Linked DNA regions of Homo sapiens: region 1 is linked to region 2. Evidence: fine-mapped expression QTL. A gene starts in region 2. The other region holds a variant in brackets. All regions are shown on one strand. Distances are from middle to middle. Region 1 has its middle 11 kb from the start of TOR1B. Region 2 holds the start of TOR1A (torsin family 1 member A).

What was found.
Region 1: its variant is fine-mapped to the expression of TOR1A in whole blood (TOPMed, PIP above 0.99).

What each region holds. Positions count from the first base shown.
Region 1 is chr9:129,786,339-129,798,602 of GRCh38, reverse strand. It overlaps the pseudogene UBE2V1P4. Among named protein-coding and RNA genes, the nearest start is that of TOR1B, 11 kb to the left of the region's middle. RefSeq lists a silencer at 7,879-8,173 and an enhancer at 8,164-8,353. The variant G/A (reference allele first, on the strand shown) is at 5,862.
Region 2 is chr9:129,819,633-129,831,896 of GRCh38, reverse strand. TOR1A (torsin family 1 member A) reads left to right here and starts at 7,761. Exons shown (of 5, transcript NM_000113.3): 1 at 7,761-7,989; 2 at 9,051-9,316. The coding sequence starts at 7,812. C9orf78 (chromosome 9 open reading frame 78) reads left to right here. Exons shown (of 9, transcript NM_016520.3): 5 at 1; 6 at 829-1,026; 7 at 2,356-2,492; 8 at 2,594-2,692; 9 at 3,645-4,607. The coding sequence ends at 3,736. RefSeq lists silencers at 3,553-3,847, 8,287-8,376 and an enhancer at 7,567-7,876.

The sequences.
Region 1 (12,264 bases), 33 kb after region 2:
ACTCACGCCAATCATCCCAGCATTTGGGGAGGCAGGTGGATCATTTAAGGCCAGGAGTTCAAGACCAGCCTGGCTAACATGGTGAAACCCTGTCTACTAAAAAATACAAAAAATAGCCAGGTGTGGTATCGGGTGCCTGTAATCCCAACTACTCGGGGGGCTAAGGCAAGAGAATCACTTGAGCCTAAGAGGTAGAGGTTGCAGTGAGCCGAGATCGTGCCACTGCACTCCAGCCTGGGCAACAGAGCAAGACTGTCTCAAAAAAAGGGCTTGAGGGAACTAGCTCGACCCTTCCACTTCTGCCTCGTGAGGACACAGCAAGAAGGCACCATTTTGGAAGCAGAAGGCAACCTTCACCAGGCACCAAATCTGCTGGCATCTTGATCTTGGTCTCCCCAGCCTCCAGAACTGTGAGAAATAAATTTCTTTTTAATTGTTTTTTCTTTTTAAAAAAATTTTGGCCAGGCGTGGTGGCTCATGCCTGTAATCCTAGCACTTTGGAAGGCCTCGGCAGGCGGATCACTTGAGATCAGGAGTCTGAGACCAGCCTGGCCAACATGGCAAAATCCCGTCTCTACTAAAAATACAAAAATTAGCCAGGCATAGGGGTGCACACCTGTAATCCCAGCTACTCAGGAGGCTGACGCAGGAGAATCCCTTGAACCCGGGAGGCGGAAGTTGCAGTGAGCCCAGATCGTGCCACTGCACTCCAGCCTGGGCCACAGTGTGAGACTCCTTCTCAAAAAAAAAAAAAAGTTTGTAACCTATTTATGTTATTTTGAGCAATTGTATACTAAAAATAATCCAAAAGAAATATTTAATACCTAGGGTTTTGTGGTCACCAGAAAAAAAAAAAAAAACTATATTAGGTTTTATAGTTTTAGGCCGCACCGGGCCTATGTTAAGTTTTCATTTGTAGTATATACATATTTTTGTTGCAGAGAAATAAGATAGCATGATCAATAAGACTGTTAGGCAAAAAAAAAAAAAAGGGGAAGAAAAAAATTTCATTAACATGACATTTGATGAGAGAGTGGAATGGAAATACGGGTTCTAGTACAAAAAAGATCATAAGTGTCTGACTTGTTCATGTGTTTGATACATGGATGGGAGGTTACATTGCTGTGGCATCTAGATTCCACCGAGTAATTAGACAAGCAATGCAACAGTGTTATCTTTTTTTTTTTTTTTTTTTTTTTGAGATGGAGTCTCGCTCTGTCACCCAGGCTGGAGTGCAGTGGCGAGGTCTCGGCTCACTGCAAGCTCCGCCTCCCGGGTTCACGCCATTCTCCTGCCTCAGCCTCCCAAGTAGCTGGGACTACAGGCGCCCGCCACCACACCCAGCTAATTTTTTTTTTTTTTTTTTGGATTTTTAGTAGAGACGGGGTTTCACCGTGTTAGCCAGGATGGTCTCGATCTCCTGACCTCGTGATCCGCCCGCCTCGGCCTCCCAAAGTGCTGGGATTACAGGTGTGAGCCACCGCGCCCGGCCCTACAGTGTTATCTTAAAGTGCAAAAATTATGTCTTTTGTGACCATTTAAACTCACAATGGGCAGGGCGAGGTGACTCACGCCTGTAATCCCAGCACTTTGGGAGGCCGAGGGGGACAGATCACCTGAGGTCAGGAATTCCAGACCAGCCTGGCCAGCATGGTGAAACCCCATCTCCACTAAAAATACAAAAATTAGCCAGACATGGTGGCATGTGCACCTGTAATCCCAGCTACTCGGGAGGCTGAGACAGGAGAATCTCTTGAATCTGGCAGGTGGAGGTTGCAGTGAGCCAAGATTGCGTCACTGCACTCCAGCCTGGGCAACAGGGTGAGACTCCATCTCAATAAATAAATAAATAAACTCACAATGAAAATTTTCAATGTTAATCTGATGTGTGAGCAAAAATGTGTGACAACCTCTGCCCAAATCATGCTCTGCCTGGCAGCCCCTTCCCCCTCCATCCTCCCGTCCGCGTCATGCTTTTTCTTGCAGGTGCTAGAAACCCCCTTCTGAATCAGCAGCTGCCAGGGAGGGACTTTGGAACTGATCTGGAGCCTGCATCCTGGCTAAATGGTATCCTCCCTCCCTGCCACCAGCCTCCTAGGTTGCTGCTGCTTCCCCGTCTCCCCACTTAAAATCCTGAGAGGCTCCTAGGCTCAGTTCCAGATCTTCTTTCTCTCCCCTCTCTCCCTGGGTGAGAGGCCCCCAACTTTCTCCAGGACCCATACCTGGCCACACCCAGGACACCTCTGGCTATTCCCTAGACAGCCCAGTAGCTGCACAGTTGAAATGGGAGCCTTGGTCACTTTCCCCAAACATGTCCCTCCCAGGAACACTTGAGCTCAGGAGTTTGAGACCAGCCTGGGCAACATAGCGAGACCCCATCTCTACAAAAAATACAAAAATTAGTCAGGCATGGTAGCTTGCACCTGTGGTCCCAGCTACTCAGGAGGCTGAGGTGGGAGGATCACCTGAGCCCAGGAGTTTGCAGTGAGCTGTGATTGTGCTGCTGCACTCCAGCCTGGGCAACAGAGTGAGACTCTGTCTCAAAAAAAAAAAAGTCCTTCCCACCGGGGTGTCTGTCACGGTAAGTGCAAACATCTTCACCCCATCCTCTCTGAGTCATTCTCCCTACAACAGGGACAGGTGGTCTTTTTACAAGGAACTGGGTCCTGCTATTCTTGCTTGGTACCTGTCGATGGCTTCCCAAAACCCTTGGGAAGAAAGGTGCCCTCCTTCCTCTGACCTCCCAGCCCCAGTGATGTGCACACTTTCCTCTCAGAGAGCCTTTCTCATCCCATAGCCTCCCTCGTTCTCATCCCACAGCCTCCCTCGTTCTCATCCCACAGGCTCCCTCGTTCTCAGGCCCCCCGCCCCTTCTCTCTCCTGCCTCGGAGTTTTCACATATAACGTGTTCTCAGCCTGGACTCTTGCCTCCAAGCCCCACACAGCTAACAGCTTCTAACCCTCAGCTCCAAGCCCACCTCCCCCGTCGACAGTAGACTTACTCCTACCCCCCAGGCACCTGCTCTCTCTCCTATCACCCCATCTGAGTCCTTGTTTATTGCCCTCCTCTCCCACTGCCACGAGAGCTTCAGGAGGGCAGGGACCTTGTCTTTTGTCCTCTGTGTCTCTAATTCCCAGAACTCTGACCAGGACACAGTAGGTGCTCCATAAATATGTGCTTGGTGTTCAAGGATAGAACACTCTCCAAGAGGACAGACTGATCTGCGGGCCAGGGATGCCTAAGGCCCTGCAGAGTAAGGGCCTGTCCCCACCATGAAGGACTGACCACACAAGGGCCAGGACATCCCCTTTGGGGACCCTCTGGGCATCTCTAATCCACCACAGGTCTCAGGAAACCTCTTCCCTGCTCCTCTCCTTCCCCTTGGAAATGAAAGGAGTTTACCTTAATTGAGCATCTAAGATTGAGCCAGGTGTCTTCATGACACCTTGTGAAACAAATGTTTCATTTGCAGGTGAGGGAACTACTGGGAGAAGCTAAGACAAGCCCCAGGCCAGGTGACTGCTCCAGGCCCAGCCTCTTCCCCTGACCTGCCACCTTCCCCAGGTGTCCTCCTGCTCCTCCCCATCCCATCCCTGCCTGTCCTGTTTCTCATACTCTAATGGGACTCGTTTCCCTGTTTGCTTGAATGTACGGTAACCTCGAAGGCAGGATTTGTTCTGTTCACCTGTAGTGCTTAGTGCGGTACTATGTCCAAGGCGTATGTCAAATATTTGTGAAAAACACACTCCCTTTCTGTCGGACAAAGAATTTTCCAAAATGCTGCCTCCGGAAGCAGACCCGCCTGAGTTTACATTCTGGCTGTCATGTTTCCTGTGTGACCCAGGGCAAGTCACCCACCTTCTCTGAGCCTCAGGCTTCTCATCCCTTCCAGTGCAGCGGGTTTAGTGCGGCTCCTATGTCATCATAAGCAAGTGCTGGGGGCCCTATGGCAGTGAACTCAATTTCTTTTGTGATCTCAGCTAAGTCCTTCTAGGTACTTTGCTTCAAAAACTCAAAAGCTAGCACCCCCAGGGGGGCTATTCTGCAGAGGTTAGGGAGGCTGCCTCCAAGCAGGCTCAATCTGATGGGCTTGGGGGACCTTTTCTCGGGCGGCAACTCTAGCCCCGTTACATGTCAGGAGTCGTGCCTTGGACATCTCTGCCTCTAGGGACCCCTCAGCAGTTCCACCACCCCAGGTACAGGAAAGCACAGTGGGGGTTTTCCATCCATGTTTCCTGCCCACCTCACATGTTTGGTGTCTTTTTTCTTTTTTTTGACATGGAGTTTTGTTCTTGTTGCCCAGGCTGGAGTGCAATGGCATGATCTTGGCTCATTGCAACCTCCGCCTCCTGGGTTCAAGCGATTCTTCTGCCTCAGCCTCCCGAGTAGCTGGGATTATAGGTACCCGCTGCCACACCCAGCTGATTTTTGTTTAGTAGAGATGGGGTTTCACCATGTTGGTCAGGCTGGTTTCAAACTCCTGAGCTCAGGTGATCCACCCGCCTCGGCCTCCCAACATGCTGGGATTACAGGCATGAGCCACTGCGCCTGGCTGTATAGTGAATTGTTTTTTTTTTTTTTGAGATGGAGTTTCACTCTTGTTGCCCAAGCTAGAGTGCAATGGCGCGATCTCGGCTCACAGCAACCTCCGCCTCCTGGATTCAAGCCATTCTCCTGCCTCAGCCTCCGGAGTAGCTGGTATTACAGGCATGCGCCATCCCCCCGGCTAATTTTGTATTTTTAGTAGAGATGGGGTTTCTCCATGTTGGTCAGGCTAGTCTCGAACTCCAGACCTCAGGTGGTCCGCCTGCCTCGGCCTCCCAAAGTGCTGGGATTACAGGCGTCAGCCACCGCGCCCGGCCTATATAGTGAAATTTTAAAGTGTATCAAAAGTTTCTATGATCATCATACTAGGTAGAATCAGCCATCACAAGAAGACAAACACTGTAAGATTCCACTTCTATGAGGTCCTTAGAGAAGTCAAAATCATACAGACAGAAAGTAGAAAGGTGGTTTCCAGAGGCTGGGGAAGGGGGGCTGTGGAGTTAGTGTTTAATGGAGACAAGAGCTTCAGTTTGGGAAGAGGAAAAGTTCTGGAGATGATTGGATGTCCAACAGGTGCATATGCTTAATGCCACTGAGTTGTACCCTGAAAAATGGTGAAGATGGTAAACTTTATATGATGTGTTTTTTAGCACAATTAAAATTCAAAAAAAATTTTTTTAAGTTCCTATGACCATGAGCCTCTGAATGTTAAAATTCCGAATTGAGTCAGCATTCCATTGATTACAGCTTGCCAAAATAGCACTGATATGTTTGTTTGTTTGTTTGTTTAGAGATAGGGTCTCACCCTGTCACCCAGGCTAGAGTGCAGTGGTGTGATCACCGCTCACTGCAGCTTCAACCTCTGAGGCAAAAGTGATCCTCCCACCTCAGCCTCCTGAGTAGCTTGGACTACAGGCGTGTGCCACTGTGCCCAGCTAATTTTTTATTTTTTGTAGAGATGGGTTCTCATTGTGTTGCCCAGGCTGGTCTCAAACTCCTGGGCTCAAGCAATCCTCCCGCCTCGGCCTCTAAGCGTTGGGATTACAGCCGTGAGCCACCATGCCCAGCAAAGGTATCTTTCAATAGATTTCAGGGTCCCACTTTCATGAAGAGCCACTGCTCTGCCCTGGTGCTGGTGGTGGTGGGATCTTGGCCTCTGTCACCCCTCCATTGATTGGCCTGAGGCAGTGACTTCCCAGGGTGCTGGAGCTGACCTCTTGGAGGTAGGTGGTCCTCAGGGAGGTCCAGGTGAAATTGGCTTAGCTGCTTTGTCACTGTGGGCACTGGTACTCCCCTCTCCTGGAAGATGGATGGT[G/A]GGAAGGGGGGTGCCTCTCTGCATTTTTCCCCATGTGGGCTCAGTAATCGCTTCCCAGTCCCCACAATTCGCTAAGCACCTGCTGCCCATCTCCCACTCTCTTAAGTAGCCAATTGCTCCATCAGTTGAAGTTCTTTGTTTCCAAACAACAGACGCTGACCGTGATTTGGGCTTTTTTAGGGTTTGTTAGAGGAGGTCAGGGTGACTCACAAAAATGTGAGAAATGACTGACCACATCTCAGGAAGAGCAGGGTCCCCGGGGTGTTGTCTAGGACTCAGGGGCAGGAGTTGGGGGACCTTTTGCTGGGACATTGCCCACAGGTGGATCAGGCTTGGCCACTTCCCATACCTGCATGCTTGGGTCCAACTTTGAGTTTGCAGAGAGAGGACCTGATTGGCCCAACCTGGGCTGGTTGACCTTGGATCAATGAGCCATGGGCTGGGGGTCGTTGTGCCTGGGTCTCCCCACCCCCAGTTAGTGCTACTGTAAATACTTGGATAACATTTTGTTCCCTTAAAAGTGTGGGTATTGGCCAGGCACGGTGGCTGATGCCTATAATCCCAGCACTTTGGGAGGCCGAGGCAGGCAGATCACCTGAGGTCAGGAGTTCAGGACCAGCCTGGCCAACATGATGAAACCCCATCTCTACTGAAAATACAAAAATTAGCCAGGTGTGGTGGCAGGTGACTGTAGTCCCAGCTACTCAAGAGGCTGAGGCAGGAGAATGGCGTGAACCCCAGGAGGTGGAGGTTGCAGTGACCCGAGATCGCACCACTGCACTCCAGTCTGGGCAACAGAGGGAGGCTCCATCTTAAAAAAAAAAACAAAACAAAACAACAACAACCAAAAAGAAAATTTACTGCTGTGAACAATGAAGACTGCTTAAGTCAAAAAGGCAAGAAGGACCTGTAGCTCTTCTTTTGGATTAGTTGCCATAACACTGTCCTTCAGGCAGCTGAGGGACTTTCACATTTTCTCTAGATGTCATTAGGTGCCAGAGCTCTTGCAGGACCACGTTGAAGCTTTATACAATAAATGCTGCCATTTTGTCAGCACCAATATGGCTCTTGGGTCCACTGCTCCATTCAAATTATTAACTCCGTTCACATTAATTCTTTTTTTTGAGACAGAGTCTTGCTCTGTTGTCCAGGCTGGAGTGCAGTGGTGCAATCTTGGCTCACTGCAACCTCTGCCTCCTGAGTTCAAGCGATTCTCATGTTTTAGCCTTCCGAGTAGCTGGGATTACAGGCGCCCGCCATCATGCCCAGCTAATTTTTAGTAGAGACGGGGTTTCACCATGTTGCCCAGGCTGGTCTTGAACTCCTGGCTTCAAGTGATCCACCCACCTCGGCCTCCCAAAGTGCTGGGATTGCAGATGTGAGCCATTGTGCCTGGTCTCATATTAATCTTTTTGTTACAAATCTTACCACGGGGGTGATTCCAGGTATTTAGGCCCACATTCTATTTTAAGACTGTATATTTGGTTTTCATAAATTGTCCGAGTCTGTGCTGGCTGTCGTCCTGTGTTGCTAGAAGGCCAGCATATTACTCATCTCACACTCGTTCCCATTCTCCTTACTCTTTCTTTCTTTCTTTCTTTTTTCTCTTTTTTTTTTCTTTAGATGGAGTCTCGCTCTCTCGCCAGGCTGGGGTGCAGTGGTGTGATCTCAGCTCACTGCAACCTCCACCTCCCGAATTCAAGCGATACTCCTGCCTCGGCCTCCCAAGTAGCTGGGATTACAGGCATGCGCCACCATGCCCGGCTAATTTATTTTTGTATTTTTAGTAGAGACGGGATTTCACCATGTTGGCCAGGATGGTCTCAATCTCTTGACCTTGTGATCCGCCCGCCTCGGCCTCCCAAAGTGCTGGGATTACAGGCATGAACCACTGCGCCTGGCCACTCTCCTTACTCTTTCTATCATTGCTGTCCAGAAGCATTGCCTATGACATTTAAATTGTCAATCCAAAACATTCAAAACTACCAGCTTACTCGTCGAGGCCATCATAAATGGAAAGAAGGCCTGGGAAAGGTGTGGAAGGGTGATTCAGCTGCAGAGAGGGCTCTGGACTTAGGTTTCGCAGCTGACTGTGACTTTCAGGACCAGAGACAGCGCCCCGGATCCACACCCATTTCCCACCCAGCGTCAGACTTGAGGATTTTAAAGAGAGGTGTCCTTGTGCTGATAGACGGGAAACTGCCCACAGCTGGGAGACTTCATGTGCTCACACCAAGAAGGCACTAGAGGGTGCTGGTGAGCTGCAGGTTTGAGGACCTGCAGCTGGGCTTATCTGCAACCTCCAGATGGGCTAAAAACAACAACAACTTAACAGAAAAAGTTCAAAAGTCTAGATTATTTAACATGTCAACAGTTCCACTGGGCGCTGTGGCTCACACCTGTAATCCCAATACGTTGGGGGGCCAGGGTGGGTGGATTGCTCGAGTCCAGGAGTTTGAGACCAGCCTGGGCAACATGGCGAAACCCCGTCTCTACTATAAACTACAAAATTTAGCCGGATGTGGTGGCGAGTTCCTGTAGTCCCAACTACCCGGGAGGCTGAGGTGGGAGGATTGCTTCAGCCTGGAGGTCAAGGCTGCAGTGAGCCGTGATCACGCCACTGCACTCCAGCCTGAAGGCAGAGCCAGACCCTGTCTCAAAAAAAAAAGTCAAAAGTTTACATTAAATTCTGTTCTCATCCAAATGTTAGTGCCTCTATCTTTCAGGGGGCCTTCCAAGGGGTACATGATATTTGGCATTCTCCTTTTCTTGTTTGGTATTTTGTGTATCAATATTACACAGTTTATTTCTATGCAACCTTTTTGTTTCGTCGTTTTGTTTTTTGAGACAGGGTCTCACCATGTTGCCCAGATTGGAGTGCAGTGGCTATTCACAGGTGTGATCATAGCTCACTGCAGCCTTGAACTCCTGGCTTCACACAATCCTCCTGCCTCAGCCTCCAGAGTAGCTGGGATTACACGTGCATGCCACCATGTGTGGCCTATTTCTATGAAATCTTTTTTTTTTAAATACAGGATCTCACTCTATCACCCAGGCTGGAGTGCAGTGATGGCTCAAGATCCCAGGCTCAGGCAATCCTCCCACCTCAGCCTCCGGAGTAGCAGGGATTATAGGCATGTGCCATCATGCCTGGCTAATTTTTGTATTTGTAGTAGAGACAGGGTTTTGCCATGTTGCCCAGGATGATGGTCTCGAACTCCTGAGCTCAGGCAATCCCCCTGCCTTGGCCTCTCAAAGTGCTGGGATTACAGGCATGAACCACTGAGCCCAGCCCTATTCCTATGAAATCTTAAGATCATAGAATATCGCATGTGCTTTCACACTGCTTTATTGAGGTATCATTGACACAGAACAAACTGCACATATTTAAAGTGTGCAATTTGCAGCGCCCAGCTCTACTAAAAATAGAAAAATTAGCTGGGTGTGGCGGCGAGCACCTGTAATCCCAGCTACTTGGGAGGCTGAGGCAGGAGAATCACCTGAACCCGGGACGTGGACTTGGCAGTGAGCCCAGATCGTGCCACTGCACTCCAGCCTGGGCGACAAGAGTGAAATTCCATCTCAAAAAAAAAAAGTGCAATTTGCTAAGTTTTGACATTTGTACGCACCCATGCAACCATCGCCACAAACAAGGTCGTGAACATACCCACCATGCCCAGAAGATTCCTTGTGCCACCTTGTCATCCCTTTCTCTTGTCTCTCCCCTCACGTTCTCTCCCTGTCAACCACCGATCTCGTTCTGTCACTATAGATTAGTATATTTGTTATAGATGGTTACAAATATTATTATTAGATAGATAGTGTTTTATTTATGAAATGCTTGCTCAGTGCCAGGCTCTGGGAGCGTTACAGTCATTATCTCATTTAAATCCAGAGCAACCCTGTGAGGTAGCGGATTGGAAATCTGCATTTTGCAGGCAAAGAAGGTGACTTGCAGAGAAATGAAGTCACTTGCCCAAGGGAGTTCCTAAACATCTAGAAAGTGCTGTTGGGAGGCCGAGGCGGGGGATCACGCGGTCAGGTGTTTGAGACCAGCCTGACCAACATGGTGAAACCCCATCTCTACTAAAAATACAAAAAATTAGCCGGGCATGGTGGTGCGCGCCTGTAATCCCAGCTGCTTAGGAGGCTGAGGCAGGAGAATTGCTTGAACCCAGGAGGCAGACATTGCAGTGAGCCGAGATAGCGCCACTGCACTCCAGCCTGGGCGACAGAGTGAGACTCCGTCTCAAAAAAAAAAAAAAAGAAAGAAAAGAAAAAAAGAAAGTGCTGGAGCCAGGACAGACGCTGGGCTCATGTGGGGGCTCCACCCCAGTGTCCTGACTCTTTCCCCCAACAGTCCAACAGGGAGGAGCACAATGCCTGGGTTCCAATTCCACCTCTGCCATGATCATGAACATGACCCTGGGCTGGTTGCCCAACCCCTCTAGGTCTCAGTTTCCTCGTTGGTGGCATGGTTGTCCTTACCTTATAGGGTTGCCTGAGGGTCACTTAAGATGATGAGTGTGGAGGCCTCTCAGCAGAGAGCTTTCAGGACAGACCAGTAAACAAGTGACCATGGTGTGGGATGCAAGTACGGTGAGACGGACGTGCAGGAATCTGAGATAATAAGGGGATGGCTAGCGGCCAGGCGCGGTGGCTCACGCCTGTAATCCCAGCACTTTGGGAGGCTGAGGCAGGCGAATCATGAAGTCAGGAGTTTGAGACCAGCCTGGCCAACATGGTGAAACCCTGTCTCTACTAAAAATACACAAAATTAGCCGGGTGTAGTGGCAGGTGCCTGTCATCCCAGCTACTTGGGAGGCTGAGGGAGGAGAATCTCTTGAACCTGGGAGGTGGAGGTTGCAGTGAGCTGAGATTTCACCACTGCACTCCAGCCCAGGTGACAGAGTGAGACTCCGTCTCAAAAAAAAAAATAGATAAATAAATAAATAAGGGGGTGGCTGTTGTGGGAGCCAAGTCTTCCAGGAAGTTCTCTCCTTGAACTCTGGGCCACTATCATCCATTCTACTCACGTTGGAAATGCATCCCCTATCTACTTGTGGCCGGGGGCTTCCTCTTTGTCAGGTGTTGGGACTCAACAGTCAATAAGAAAGACTTGGCACCACCCACCAGGACTCCCACCTGGTCGGGAGGTGGGGGCAGAGGGGCAAGTCCCCAGCAATTACAGTCCAGTGGGATCAGTGCTGTGCTGGGGGAAATACAGGCACATATTGTCCATTTTGCTTTCATAATCCCTCCAGGCTTCGTTCCTCCAAGCTCTCCCAACCTTACCTGAGATACTCCTGCTGTCCCATGGAGAATTCTTTATAAGTGCAGTATTGTTGAAATACACCCCAAGGACATTGCTACTGCTGCTGTTGAAAAGCTTCCTGTTCTTTGGGTTTGTGAATACACAGTACTCTGGTCTCCCACTATTGTTCCCTAACCAAGTGCCACCTCCAGCCCCAAACCGATCACAAACGGGATGGCCAAGCACTGGGCGTGGGAATAACCGGTCTGAAGCTCAGCCACGCCGCTATAGACTGTGTGACCTTGGCCGTCATTTATTTTCAATCAAGGCTCAGTTGTTCACCTGTGAGTTCTCTGCAGGATATGGTTATCCCTGAGCTGGCTTCTTCTTACCCTGAGACTTGCTCACGCCCGTTGACCTCCCGGTGGTTGTGGACTCAAAGGCTGTCAACCCACTTAGAAAGCAAAACATAGTGGGGAAAGGAAAGCTGCTGTCCAAAGGGATCACACACCACTGTCACGCGCTTCTGTGTGAAGAGTCCACTAACAGGCTTTGTGTGAGCAACAAGGCTGTTTATTTCAACTGGGTGCAGGCGGGCTAGTCCGAAAAGAGAGTCAGCAAAGGGTGGTGGGGTTATCATTAGTTCTTATGGGTTTGGGATAGGCAGTGGAGTTAGGAGCAATTTTTTTGTGGGCAGGGGGTGGATCTTAGGAAGTACATTCTCAAGGGCGGGGAGAATATTACAAAGTACCTTCTTAAGGGCGGTGGGCGGGGGAATATCACAAAGTGCATTATCACAAGGGCGGGGAGCGTGTATTGTCATAAGGTCAGTTGATCAGTTGAGGGTGGGGCAGGAACAGATCACAATGGTGGAATGTCGTCTTTTGTGGATCTTCAGTTGCTTCAGGCCATCTGGATGTATACGTGCCGGTCACAGGGGATATGATGGGTTAGCTTGGGCTCAGAGGCCCGACAACCACCAAGGTACCAATCCGAGGTTGCAGAAGGAGGTTAATGGGTTGTATCCATAGGGACTTTTTTTTTTTTTTTTTAAGAAACAGGTCTCACTCTCTTGCCCAGGCTGGAGTACAGTGGTATGATCATGGCTCACTGCAGCCTCAATCTCCTGGGCTCAAGCAGTCCTCCCTC
Region 2 (12,264 bases):
TGTAAGTGTCAGTCTGTTTGGCTGTGAGCAGTTGGGGCTGGACTCCAGTCAGAGTCCAAGATATTTAGTCAACAGATGACATTTCTAGAATTTTCTAGAAGATGTCAAAGTTGGCCCCTCTCTTTCTACTTCCCAGCTTAAGAACTTTGAAAACCTCTTAAAAGGTCTTTTCAGGCCGGGCACGGTAGCTCTCACCTGTAGTCCCAGCACTTTGGGAGGCCGAGGCAGGTGGATCATCTGAGGTGGGGAGTTCGAGACCAGACTGACCAACATGGAGAAACCCCGTCCCTACTGAAAATACAAAATTAGCTGGGTGTGGTAGTGGGCACCTGTAATCCCAGCTACTCGGGAGGCTGAGGCAGGAGAATTGCTTGAACCTGGGAGGCAGAGCTTGCGGCGAGCCAAGATCTCGCCATTGCACTCCAGCCTGGGCAACAAGAGTGAAACTCCGTCTCCAAAATATAAAAAATAAAAACTTGTTTTCAAAGGTGGTTTCATGACTAGTAATATTTCCCCAAAACATTGCAGGGATAAAACATGGGCTTGCCCACTTTTTATTTTGCCAACAAAGCTATTGGCAAACTATCATCTTTCTGTCTTCAAAGAACCTTGTACATCATAACACCAATAGATTAGTGGGACATAACCTCATAGGTTGGTGCTTCTTTAGAAAATTTCTAACTTGATGAAAAAACTCAAGTTATTTTTTTTCTCGTTTCTCCATGGACTGTCACTGGTCTGCGGGCCAGTGTTGGGGACCACTGATTTAGAGGACACCTGGTGTGTGTTTCCCACCCCTCCCTGAGGCCTCTGGGTTTCTCACTTCAGGATGAAGTACATTGAGACAGAGCTAAAGAAGAGGAAAGGGATCGTGGAACATGAGGAACAGAAAGTTAAGCCAAAGAATGCAGAGGACTGTCTTTATGAACTTCCAGAAAACATCCGTGTTTCCTCAGCAAAGAAGACCGAGGAGATGCTTTCCAACCAGATGCTGAGTGGCATTCCTGAGGTGGACCTGGGCATCGAGTATGTTTGAGACCCCTAGGCAGAAGACACAGTGCTTTCCAGTTAAAAGTTATGGGGGACAGGCCAGGCACGGTGGCTCATGCCTGTAATCCTAGCACTTTGGGAGGCTGAGGCGGGTGGATCACGAGGTCAGGAGTTCAAGACCAGCCCGGCCAAGATGGTCGAACCCCGTCTCTACTAAAAATACAAAAATTAGCTGGGCATGGTGGCAGGCACCTGTAGTCCAGCTACTTGGGAGGCTGAGGCAGGAAATTGCTTGAACCCTGAAGGTGGAGGTTGCAGTGAGGCGAGATCATGCCACTGCACTCCAGTCTGGCGACAGAGCAAGACTCCATCTCAAAAAAAAAGGAAAAAAAAATTTATGGGGGACAGGTATGGTGGCTGATGCCTATAAGCCTATAATCCCAGTACTTGGGAGGCCAAGGCAGGAGGATCACGTGAGGCCAGGAGATCAGCCTGAGAAATATAGTCAGACTCCTGTCTCTCAAAAAAATTTAAAAAATTAGCTGGGCTGTCACTTGAGCTCAGGAGTTGAGGCTACAGTGAGCCATGATTGCACCACTGCACACCAGTCTGGGTGACAGAGTAAGACCCTTTAAAAAAAAAAAAAAAAGGCCAGACATGGTGACTTGTGCCTGTTATCCTAGCTCTTTGGGAGGCCAAGGTGGGAGGATCACTTGAGCCCAGGAGTTCAAGACCAGCCTGGGCAATGTAATGAGACCCCATGTTCTTATCTGTGTCCTTAGAATCCTACAAATACAAATGAGATTGTCCCTGGCAGGTTGTTGCTAGAAGTTTCGCTGAAGGCTTGATCAGAGTAGTAAGGGCCCCTGACTGCTGGAAGCAAAAGTGGTTCTTTAGCGTGTTACAGCTGTTCAGCTGTATCAGGCCCTTTATTCTTCTGTTTTCTTCTAGCAGGAGCCATGTTAAAGGCTCACTCACCCCTTCTCCCCATGATCCTTCTTAAAATATCCACTTTAAAAGGGAATTGTTATGGAAGAGGTACAATTGTTAGAATAATCTTCTGGTACAGTAGAAAGCTGGGAGGCTTCTGGGCTCTTTTCTGGCCTTTACAAACTTTGAGCCTTAAGCATTTTACTTCTCTGAAGCTCAATTTGCTCTTGATCAGAAGAGCAGAGTAACTGTGGTTCTCCGACAGCCGTGAGAGTCCCGTGAGAATGTGACTACAAGTGTGCTTGATAAAGTGGAGAGCTGTGCCCCAGGACACATGATTTTCTTATGTACTGCTGGGCTGCCAGCCTCACCACTCATGTCTGAGTAGTAAGGTGCTATCATCTTCTAAGTGGTGTGGTTTCTTTCTCTCCATAGTGCTAAAATAAAAAATATCATTTCCACGGAGGATGCCAAGGCCCGTCTGCTGGCAGAGCAGCAGAACAAGAAGAAAGACAGCGAGACCTCCTTCGTGCCTACCAACATGGCTGTGAATTATGTGCAGCACAACAGATGTAAGCCCCTCGGAGAGCAGTCTTGCCCCCATTCCCCTATTTGGGCTGAGATCCCTAGGAACCTCATGTTCTAACGTGTCCCCTGGTCTCTTTGGGTCCAGTTTATCATGAGGAGCTCAACGCGCCCATACGGAGAAACAAAGAAGAGCCCAAGGCCCGGCCCTTGAGAGTAGGTGACACGGAGAAGCCAGAGCCTGAGCGTGAGTGCAACAAAGGCCTCGGGGCTGCCTGGAGTGCTCAGCAATGTGGGAACCCATGGAGGCAGGATGCAGCGGGGGACAGGGTGGAGCCTGGCATTGGAGCCGGGGCATATGGGTTCCAGTCCATGCTCTGGACCATGACTATGTGCCTTCCCCTTTCTAAGCCTCAGTTTCCTCATTGGAATCCTAATAGAACCTACCTGTTAGGATTACTCTGAGAATTCATACTCTCTCATATTCTCACGCACAGTAGAGACTCAAGAAGTTAGAAAATTTCAGTAAGGACAAATAAAAGCTACTCATAAGGTTAGCTGGGTGCAGTGCCTCACACTTGTAGTCTCAGCTGCTGGGGAAGCTGGGACAGGAGGATTGCTTGAGACTAAGAGTTCAAGGCTGCAGTGAGCTATGATTGGACCACTGCACTCTAGCCTGCGTGACAGAGTGAGACCACATCTTTTTTTTAAAGAAAAGAAAAAGGTATTGGCCATGCTCGGTGGCCCATGCCTGTAATCCCAGCACTTTGGGAGGCAGAGGCAGGCAGATCACCTAAGGTCAGGAGTTCAAGACGAGCCTGGCCAACATGGTGAACCCCGTCTCTACTAAAAATACAAAAATTAGCCAGGTGAGGTGGCAGGTGCCTGTAATCCCAGCTACTCAGGAGGCTGAGGCAGGAGAATCACTTGAACTCGGGAGTTGGAGGTTGCAGTGAGCTGAGATCATGCCATTACACTCTAGCCTGGGCAACAGGGTGAGACTCCATCTCAAAAAAAAGAAAAGAAAAGAAAAAAAAAAAGACAAATACGTATCTACTGAGGCCCTACTGTGTTCACTGGGTTAGGCGCTGGGGCTCCTGTGGGGAAGGAAACAGGCAGTTGTCTTTGCCTGCATGGAGTAAAGTCTAGCAGTGGGTTCCAGCATGGCAAACCACCTTTCCTGTTCTTTTCCTTCTCAGGGTCCCCTCCTAACCGCAAGCGTCCTGCTAACGAGAAGGCAACTGATGACTATCATTATGAGAAGTTCAAGAAAATGAATAGGCGGTACTGAGTTGTGCAGAGTGGGATGTAAATATCGCCTTCCTCTCCCTATATCCCTCCCATGAAAAATGGCTTCCTGGCCGGGCGTGGTGGCTCCTGCCTGTAATCCCAGCACTTTGGGAGGCCGAGGTGGGCGGATCACCTGAGGTCGGGAGTTTGAGACCAGCCTGACCAACATGGAGAAACCCAGTCTCTACTGAAAATACAGAAAAGTTAGCCAGGCGTGGTGGCACATGCCTGTAATCCCAGCTGCTCAGGAGGCTGAGGCAGGAGAATTGCTTGAACCCAAGAGGCGGAGGTTGTGGTGAGCCGAGATTGCACCTTTGTACTCCAGCCTGGGCAACGAGCAAAAAACTCTGTCTCAAAAAAAAAAAAAAAAAAAAAAAAGAAAAAGAAAAATGGCTTCCAGGACAGAGCATGCTCATTTGCTGGCGGACAGTTCCAGAAACAGACCCTGTTAGTCCTTCTACTTACCTGCTGGATTTTTCAAGCACTAAATTTATAACTTTTTGAAACAAAATAATGTGTAATTTTCCATTTGGGGGCAAACTCTATTCTTGTGAGCATTATTAAATCTTGTTTGTAAATATATTGTCTTTCTCTTAATATTTGCTCTGGGTCAGGAAGAAGCTGTTCACGGTGTGATAATACTCTTTAGATTGTGCTTTCATTATTATAGATGCATCATGTCTTCTGCTTTCACGTGTCTGGGATGGGGTCAGAAATGCATCCTCCAGCTGACAGAAAAATCCAGGATGAGATCAGAAGGATACTGGTGTTTTCTGACTTTTACAAAATTACTTGTTTGTTTTCATTAAAAAAAAAGCATAAACTATGTTTCTTATTACTATTAGAATTATTAAATTTCAAAATGAATCCAACCTTATTGTTTGTATTATGTTTCTTATACCAGCATCAGGTAATGTTTTTAAAGCCCATGGTTTGGGTAGCCTAAATGTAAAACTGAATTACTGAGATGGATTTTCTCATTTATTTCAAACAGTGAGCTATGATTGGACCACTGCAGCATAGACATGCTGCAACCTGCTGTCAAGTACCTTCTTACCTGTGCCCTCATTTTTCCTGAGGCATCCACAGGGGTCCAAAAGAGGAAAGAGCAGATTGGCTGACTTCTGGGTGGATTTAGAGCAGGTATTGTGGTTACAGTGGTTTGGCCCAGGAGTCAGATCTGAGCCCACCTCGCAGCTTACTACTTGTGTCCTTGGACAGATCCTTTTCACTCTTAGCCTCAGTTTTCTCATCTGTAAAATGGAGATTTTTTTTTTTCCTCCACTTGAATATGGTCAGTGAAGGCAGGAACCATGTGTGCCTAATTTTTAAATTTGAATCCCCAGGGCATAGCCCATAATCTGACAGATAGGCAGTCCTCAAAACTATGAATGATCCCTATAGTGTTTGGCTTGTAACAGGTGCACAAAAGTATTTTAAATCCAATACGAAAAAGTCGAAACTTAAAAAATATTTTCAGGATATTTCAACAAACATTTACAGGTCCCAGCGATGTGCAGGGGTAACCCAAGATGAATACTAAAGGCCTAGCACATCTGGCACACAGCAACGCAACACGTGTTTATGGGATGAACAGGCAAATAAGTGGATGGTCAACAGTTCTCACTTGCCAGAGTTCCCTTTGCTAGAAAATGAGTAATCTTTTATCCAGCTTAAAAGTGGCTGCCAGATGGAGGGAGCTGGTTCTCTCACTGTTGGGGTGGGAATTCACAGATAAACAAGGGGAGGAGGCTCCAATGATCTGTGTAATGGATTAGAGTTGGAGATGTCAGCACGAGCTCATGTTTAGCTTAATATAGGTACAGATGTTTACCTATAAAAATATTTATAGATATGTGTGTGTTTAACAGTATATACACACATTTTTTTCTGTCAGCTGAGACTGAAAGAAATGACATCTCAATAGCAAGAAGCACACCTAGCACCCAGACCTTGGTTTCTCTTTTTTTTTTTTTTTTTTTTTTTTGATACGAAGTCTCGCTCTGTCACCCAGGCTGGAGTGCAGTGGTGCGATCTCGGCTCACTGCAACCTCCACCTCCCAAGTTCAAGGAATTCTCCTGTTTCAGCCTCCCATGTAGCTGAGACTACAGGCACACGCAACCATGCCTAGCTAATTTTTTTGTATTTTCAGTAGAGATGGGGTTTCACCATATTGGTCAGGCTGGTCCCAAACTCCTGACCTCAGGTGATGCACCTGCCTCAGCCTCCCAAAATGCTGGATTACAGGCATGAGCCACCATGCCCAGCCAGTTTCTAATGCCATTTTACAATGAAAGGAATCAGGGTTCCTCGTAGAAAATAGGATTCTAGGACTGGGGCAGGAAATACAAGATGAGCCCGGAGTATCCTGTAGTGTCAGAAAGGAAAGAGGCACTCAAACCCAAATAAGCTGGTATATACACTGGGTGTATGTCAAAGGAGCACAAGGAACCACTCAAATTCCCAGTGGCCAAAATGAGAACAATTTGAAAAAAAAATTAGTACTGTAGTATAACAAAGGATAAAATAACAATGGTCCACACTGATATAAATGATTGAATACATGGGGGAGAAGAAACAAATCTCCCATGCAGAATTCCAAATAATTTCTGTAGATACTCTGCCCCCAAGGAGGTGGAGCAAAATCCCCGACTCCTTACGTGTGGGCTGTGCATGGGGACGTCCTTCCAAAGAGTACAGTAGAGAAAAGAGGGGTGGGGGGACCTGACAAACACTACTTCAGTCAAGTGATCAAGTCAGCACCAACAGTGGTAAGTAACGTTGAACAGTAAGAACCCTTCCTTGGTAGGATGTGATGAGCATAGCACTTTACCTCTGTGATCTTCCTTCCAAAACGCCATAACGCTTGTCTAATCCTGAGAAAAACATCAAATCCCAATAGAGGGCCAGCCCACCAAAGATTTGGCCAGTACTCCTCAAAACTATCAAGGTCATCAAAAATAAAAAGCTGAGGCCAGGCGCGGTGGCTCACGCCTGTAATCCCAGCACTTTGGGAGGCTGAGACGGGCAGATCATGAGGTCAGATCAAGACCATCCTGGCCAACATGGTGAAACCCCGTCTCTACCAAAAATACAAAAATTAGCCGGGCATGGTGGTGTGTGCCTGTAATCCCAGCTGCTCAGGAGGCTGAGACAGGAGAATCGCTTGAACCTGGGAGGCAGAGGTTGCAGTGAGCTGAGATCATGCCACTGCACTCCAGCTAAAATAAAAATAAAAGGCTGAGACACTGTCATTAACAGTAGTCTAAGACATGACAACGAAATATAATGTGGTATCCTGAATGGAAACCTGCAGCAGAAAAAGGCATTAAGTAAAAGGAAGGAAATCTGAATAAACTACACTTTAGTTAATATGACAACAGTGCATCGTTAATTTTAACAAATGTAGCACACTAATAATGTAAGATTTTAGTAATAGGGGAAATTGCAGGGATGGGTGGCACATGGGAACTCTCTACTATCTTCTCAATTTTTCTGTAAATCTGTTCTAAAAAATAACGTCCGTTATTATTATTATTATTATTATTATTATTTGCGGGGAGGGGACACAGTCTTGCTCTGTCTCCCAGGCTGGAGTGCAGTGGTGAGATCTCGGCTCACTGCAATCTCCGCCTCCTGGGTTCAAGCGATTCTCATGTGTCAGCCTCCCCAGTAGCTAGGGCTACAGGTGCCTACCACCACACCCGGCTAATTTTATATTTTTAGTAGAGACGTGGTTTCACCATGTTGGTCAGGCTGGTCTCGAACTCCTGACCTCAGGTGATCCGCCCGCCTCAGCCTCCCAAAGGGCTGGGATTACAGGCAGGAGCCACCATGCCTGGCAAAAATAACGTCCATAAACAAAAACACGTGGCCAACAGGGGCGGAGCAGAACCGAGTTTCCGGAAGCAAAACAGGGCTTTGTACCGAACAAAGATGGCGGCCGCCGGCGTCGGGAGGAGGGCTGCCCTGAAGAAAGATGGCCTCCGCGAGAGGAGGAACCGGAAGCGTGGGTCTGGCGGCTGCACCGGTTCGCGGTCGGCGCGAGAACAAGCAGGGTGGCGCGGGTCCGGGCATGAAGCTGGGCCGGGCCGTGCTGGGCCTGCTGCTGCTGGCGCCGTCCGTGGTGCAGGCGGTGGAGCCCATCAGCCTGGGACTGGCCCTGGCCGGCGTCCTCACCGGCTACATCTACCCGCGTCTCTACTGCCTCTTCGCCGAGTGCTGCGGGCAGAAGCGGAGCCTTAGCCGGGAGGGTAGGCTGGGGCGGGGGCTGGAGGCTGGGGCTGGGGCTGGGGCTGGGCGATGGCACTAGGGCTGAACTAGGACCAGGGCATGGAGAATGGAGGATGGAGGCCGGGGGATGGCACCAGGGCCGGGCTAGGACTAGGGCTGGAGCGGGGCCTGGGGGCTGGGGCTGGGCGATGGCACTAGGGCCGGGTTGGGGCTGGGGCTGGGGCTGGGGGATGGAGCGGGGCCCGGGGGCTGGGGGTGGGGCTGGGGGATCGCACTAGGGCTGGGTTAAGACCAGGGCGGTTGGCTGGGGCTAGGGGATTGAGGATGGTGGATGGAGGCTGGGGGATGGCAGTAGGGCCGGGCTAGGACTGGGGCTGGAGCGGAGTTTGGGGGCTGGGGCTCAGGAGCGGGGGCTGGGGCTGGGGCTGGGGCTGGGGGATGGCACTAGGGCCAGGCCGGGGTAGGGGTCACATCCCAGGAGGGCCGGGCCTGGGCAGAGCTGAGTCCGCGGGGGCCGGACCCCGGAAGCCAAGCGGCCGGCCTGCAGGATGAGGCCTGGCTCCTCGGCCATGACCACAGACGTGCCAGACTTAAGTCGGAGACCTGAGGAGCCAGGCTGCAGGTTGGCCTACTTTGCGCTAAGCTGGGGGTGGACCAGTGGTAACCTCCCTCCGAAGTGGGTTCTGCCTCCTTTCTAGCCTAGCGGGAGACAGGAAGGATGGTGAGGACTCTTCCGCAGCCGACCAGGAGGGACCAAACTGTTTCCTTTCCCGGCTCTGCCTTGGGGTGGGAGGAGCAGCACAGGGGTTAGGGGTGCAAACTGGTGGCAGTGGCAGTGGCACCAAGGGGCTTTTCGGGAAGGAGTCGGGCCAGGGCTTTAGAATAGGCAGGACCAGCAAAGGGAGGGCTCCCTGGACCGCCGTCCCCTCTGGGCCAGGAGCTTACAGACCGCAGTACTTGAGGTTTCGCAAGGTGCTTGGAGGGCGTCTAGACGGCTTTGCTGGCTTTCTTATGGGCTGTAAATGTGGCTACATTTTGCCGCTGTTTCTTCCCCACTCCTGATTGGCTTTGTCTTTCCCAGCACTGCAGAAGGATCTGGACGACAACCTCTTTGGACAGCATCTTGCAAAGAAAATCATCTTAAATGCCGTGTTTGGTTTCATAAACAACCCAAAGCCCAAGAAACCTCTCACGCTCTCCCTGCACGGGTGGACAGGCACCGGCAAAAATTTCGTCAGCAAGATCATCGCAGAGAATATTTACGAGGGTGGTCTGAACAGTGACTATGTCCACCTGTTTGTGGCCACATTGCACTTTCCACATGCTTCAAACATCACCTTGTACAAGGCAAGGATGGAAGTTTGGAATCCCTTCCTGGATGTCATCGGGTTTGGGGTCTCTTTGTTGTGGGATGAGATTTGGGAGTTCTATGTTGAAATGAGTGAGCCCGGAAAACGGTTCATGTCTCAGTTCCCCTTGGAAAGGTGTAGAAGTTAAGAGTTTGAGATGCGTGGAGCAGTTAATACCATCAAAGCTTTGTGGTGGGTTCTGAAAATCGGTCCAGTGAGTATGTAGGGTCATGGGATTTTAGAGGTGGACATGATCAAATCCATCTTAGAGATCAACACATCTCACTCATTTTTTTATTTTTTTCTTTATTTTGAGACGGAGTTTCACTCTTCTTACCCGGGCTGGAGTGCAATGGCATGATCTCAGCTCACTGCAACCTCTGCCTCCCGGTTGAAGCAATTATCCTGCCTCAGCCTCCCGGGTAGCTGGGATTACAGGGTCCTGCCACCATGCCCAGCTAATTTTTGTATTTTTAGTAGAGATGGGGTTTTGCCAACTTGGCCAGGCTGGTCTCGAACTCCTGATCTCAGGTGATGTGCCTGCCTCAGCTTCCCGAAGTGCTGGGATTACAGGCGTGAGCCACCATGCCTGGCCACATCTCACTCATTTTGTGAAAGAGGAAACATGTAGAGTCCTAAGTTTGTTGAACCTACTGTTGTAAACTGCCTTTTTTTTTTTTTCTTTGAGTCAGGGTCTCACTCTGTTGTCCAGGCTGGAGTGCAGTGACGCCATCTCAGCTCACTACAGCCTCCACCTTCCCGGTTCAAGCGATTCTCCTGCCTCAGCCTCCCAAGTAGCTGTGACTACAGGCATGTGCCACCACAGCCGGCTAATTTTTGTATTTCTAGTAGAGATGGGGTTTCCTCACATTGGCCAGGCTGGTCTCGAACTCCTGACCTCAAGTGATCTGCCTACCTCAGCCTCCCAGAGTGCTAGGATTACAGGCGTGAGCCACCTTGCCCAGCCGCAAACAGCTTTTATGGTTGAACTCACTGATGAGCAGCTTGGGCTTTGGCAGCAGACACATCTGGATTTGAGTCCTAACACTCTCCCAGCTCCGTAGTCTTAGGAAAGTTGCCTGACCTGAGACTCAGATTCTGACTTACAAAGTGTTGCTTGTAACAATCCAGGGAGCTCTGTCTGTCAAGTGCATAACATGTACCTGGTGCATGTTACAAATAAATGTTAACTGTTGCCTTTTAGATCCTTGTAGCAGACCTGCAAGATGGGCAAAACAGTCAATTATTTATTTATTTATTTTTGAGACTGAGTTTCATTCTTGTCACCCAGGCTGGAGTGCAGTAGCACCATCTGGATCTTGATCTCGGCTCACCGCAAACTCTGCCTCCCGGATTCAAGTGATTCTGCTGCCTCAGCCTCCCAAGTAGCTGGTATTACAGGCACCTGCCACCACACCCAGCTAATTTTTGTATTTTTAATAGAGACAGGGTTTCACCTTGTTGGCCAGGCTGGTCTCAAACTCCTGACCTCAAGGTCATCCAGCTGTCTCTACTTCCCAAAGTGCTGAAATTACAGGTATGAGCCACCATGCCTGGCCTCAATCAGTTATTTATCCCTGACTGTATCTATGGAAAAATGTGAACACATTTTTCCCTTCTGTCTGGGTGAGCGTGTGGGTCACCCACTGTCCAGCGGTTCTGTACTAAAATGCGAATGTTCCACGGGTGTGGTGGCTCATGCCTATAATTCTAGCACTACGGGAAGCCAAAACCGGCTGATCCCTTGAGCTCAAGAGTTCCAGACCAGCCTGGGGAACATGGTGAAACCCCATCTCTACTAAAAAAATACAAAAAAATTAGTCAGGCATGGTGGCATGCACCTGTAGTCCCAGCTACTTAGGGGGCTGAGGCAGAAGGATGGCTTGAACCTGGGAGGTCGAGGCTGCAGTGAGCAGACAGCCACTGCAGTCCAGCCTGGGTGACGGAGTGAGACCCTGTCCCAAACAAACAAGAACCATTCTAGACGAATCAGGATAAGTTGATCATCTTAGAATTGAGGCTTCACTAACAATAACTGTGACTTTGGGCAAAGTTACTTCACTTGTCTGTGCCTCAGTTTTCTCATTTGTAAAAGAAGGAGCACAATGGTAACTACCGTGATGGGTTTTGGGAGGTCACAGTAAAATGTTCTATGAACAGACCAGGTGTGGTGGCTCGCGCCTGTAATCCCAGCACTTTGGGAGGCCGAAGCGGGTGGATCACAAGGTCAAGAGTTCAAGACCAGCCTGGCCAAGATGGTGAAACCCCATCTCTACTAAAAATACAAAAATTAGCTGGGCGTGGTGGCAGGTGCCTGTAGTCTCAGCTACTCAGGGGGCTGAGGCAAGGGAATCGCTTGAATCTGGGAGGCAGAGGTTGCAGTGAGCTGAGATCATGTCATTGCACTCCAGTCTGGGTAACAGAGCGAGACTGTCAAAAAAAAAAAGTTATATGAACAGTGCTTAGAATATTGTTGTTCCCATAGTGAACACTCAGTGCATGTTCCCTGTTATTGCATATAAGTTTGGTCACCAGAGTGAGAAACCTTGGCTGCTGGAGCCTAACAGGTCTGAGTGAATCCTTGTTTATTTTATTTATTTATTTTATTTTATTTTATTTATTTATTATTATTATTATTTTTTTTTTTTGAGACGGAGTCTTGCTCTGTCTCCCAGGCTGGAGTGCTGGAGTGCAGTGGGGTGATCTTAGCTCACTGCAACCTCCACCTCCCAGGTTCCAGCGATTCTCAAGCCTCAGCCTCCCAAGTACCTGGGATTACAGGCGCCTGCCACTATGCCTGGCTAATTTTTGTATTTTTTTTTTTAATGGAGTCTTGCTCTGTCGCCACGCTGGAGTGCAATGGCTTGATCTTGGCTCACCGCAACCTCCGCCTCCCAGGTTCATGCAATTCTACCTCAGCCTCCTGAGTAGCTGGGACTATAAGCA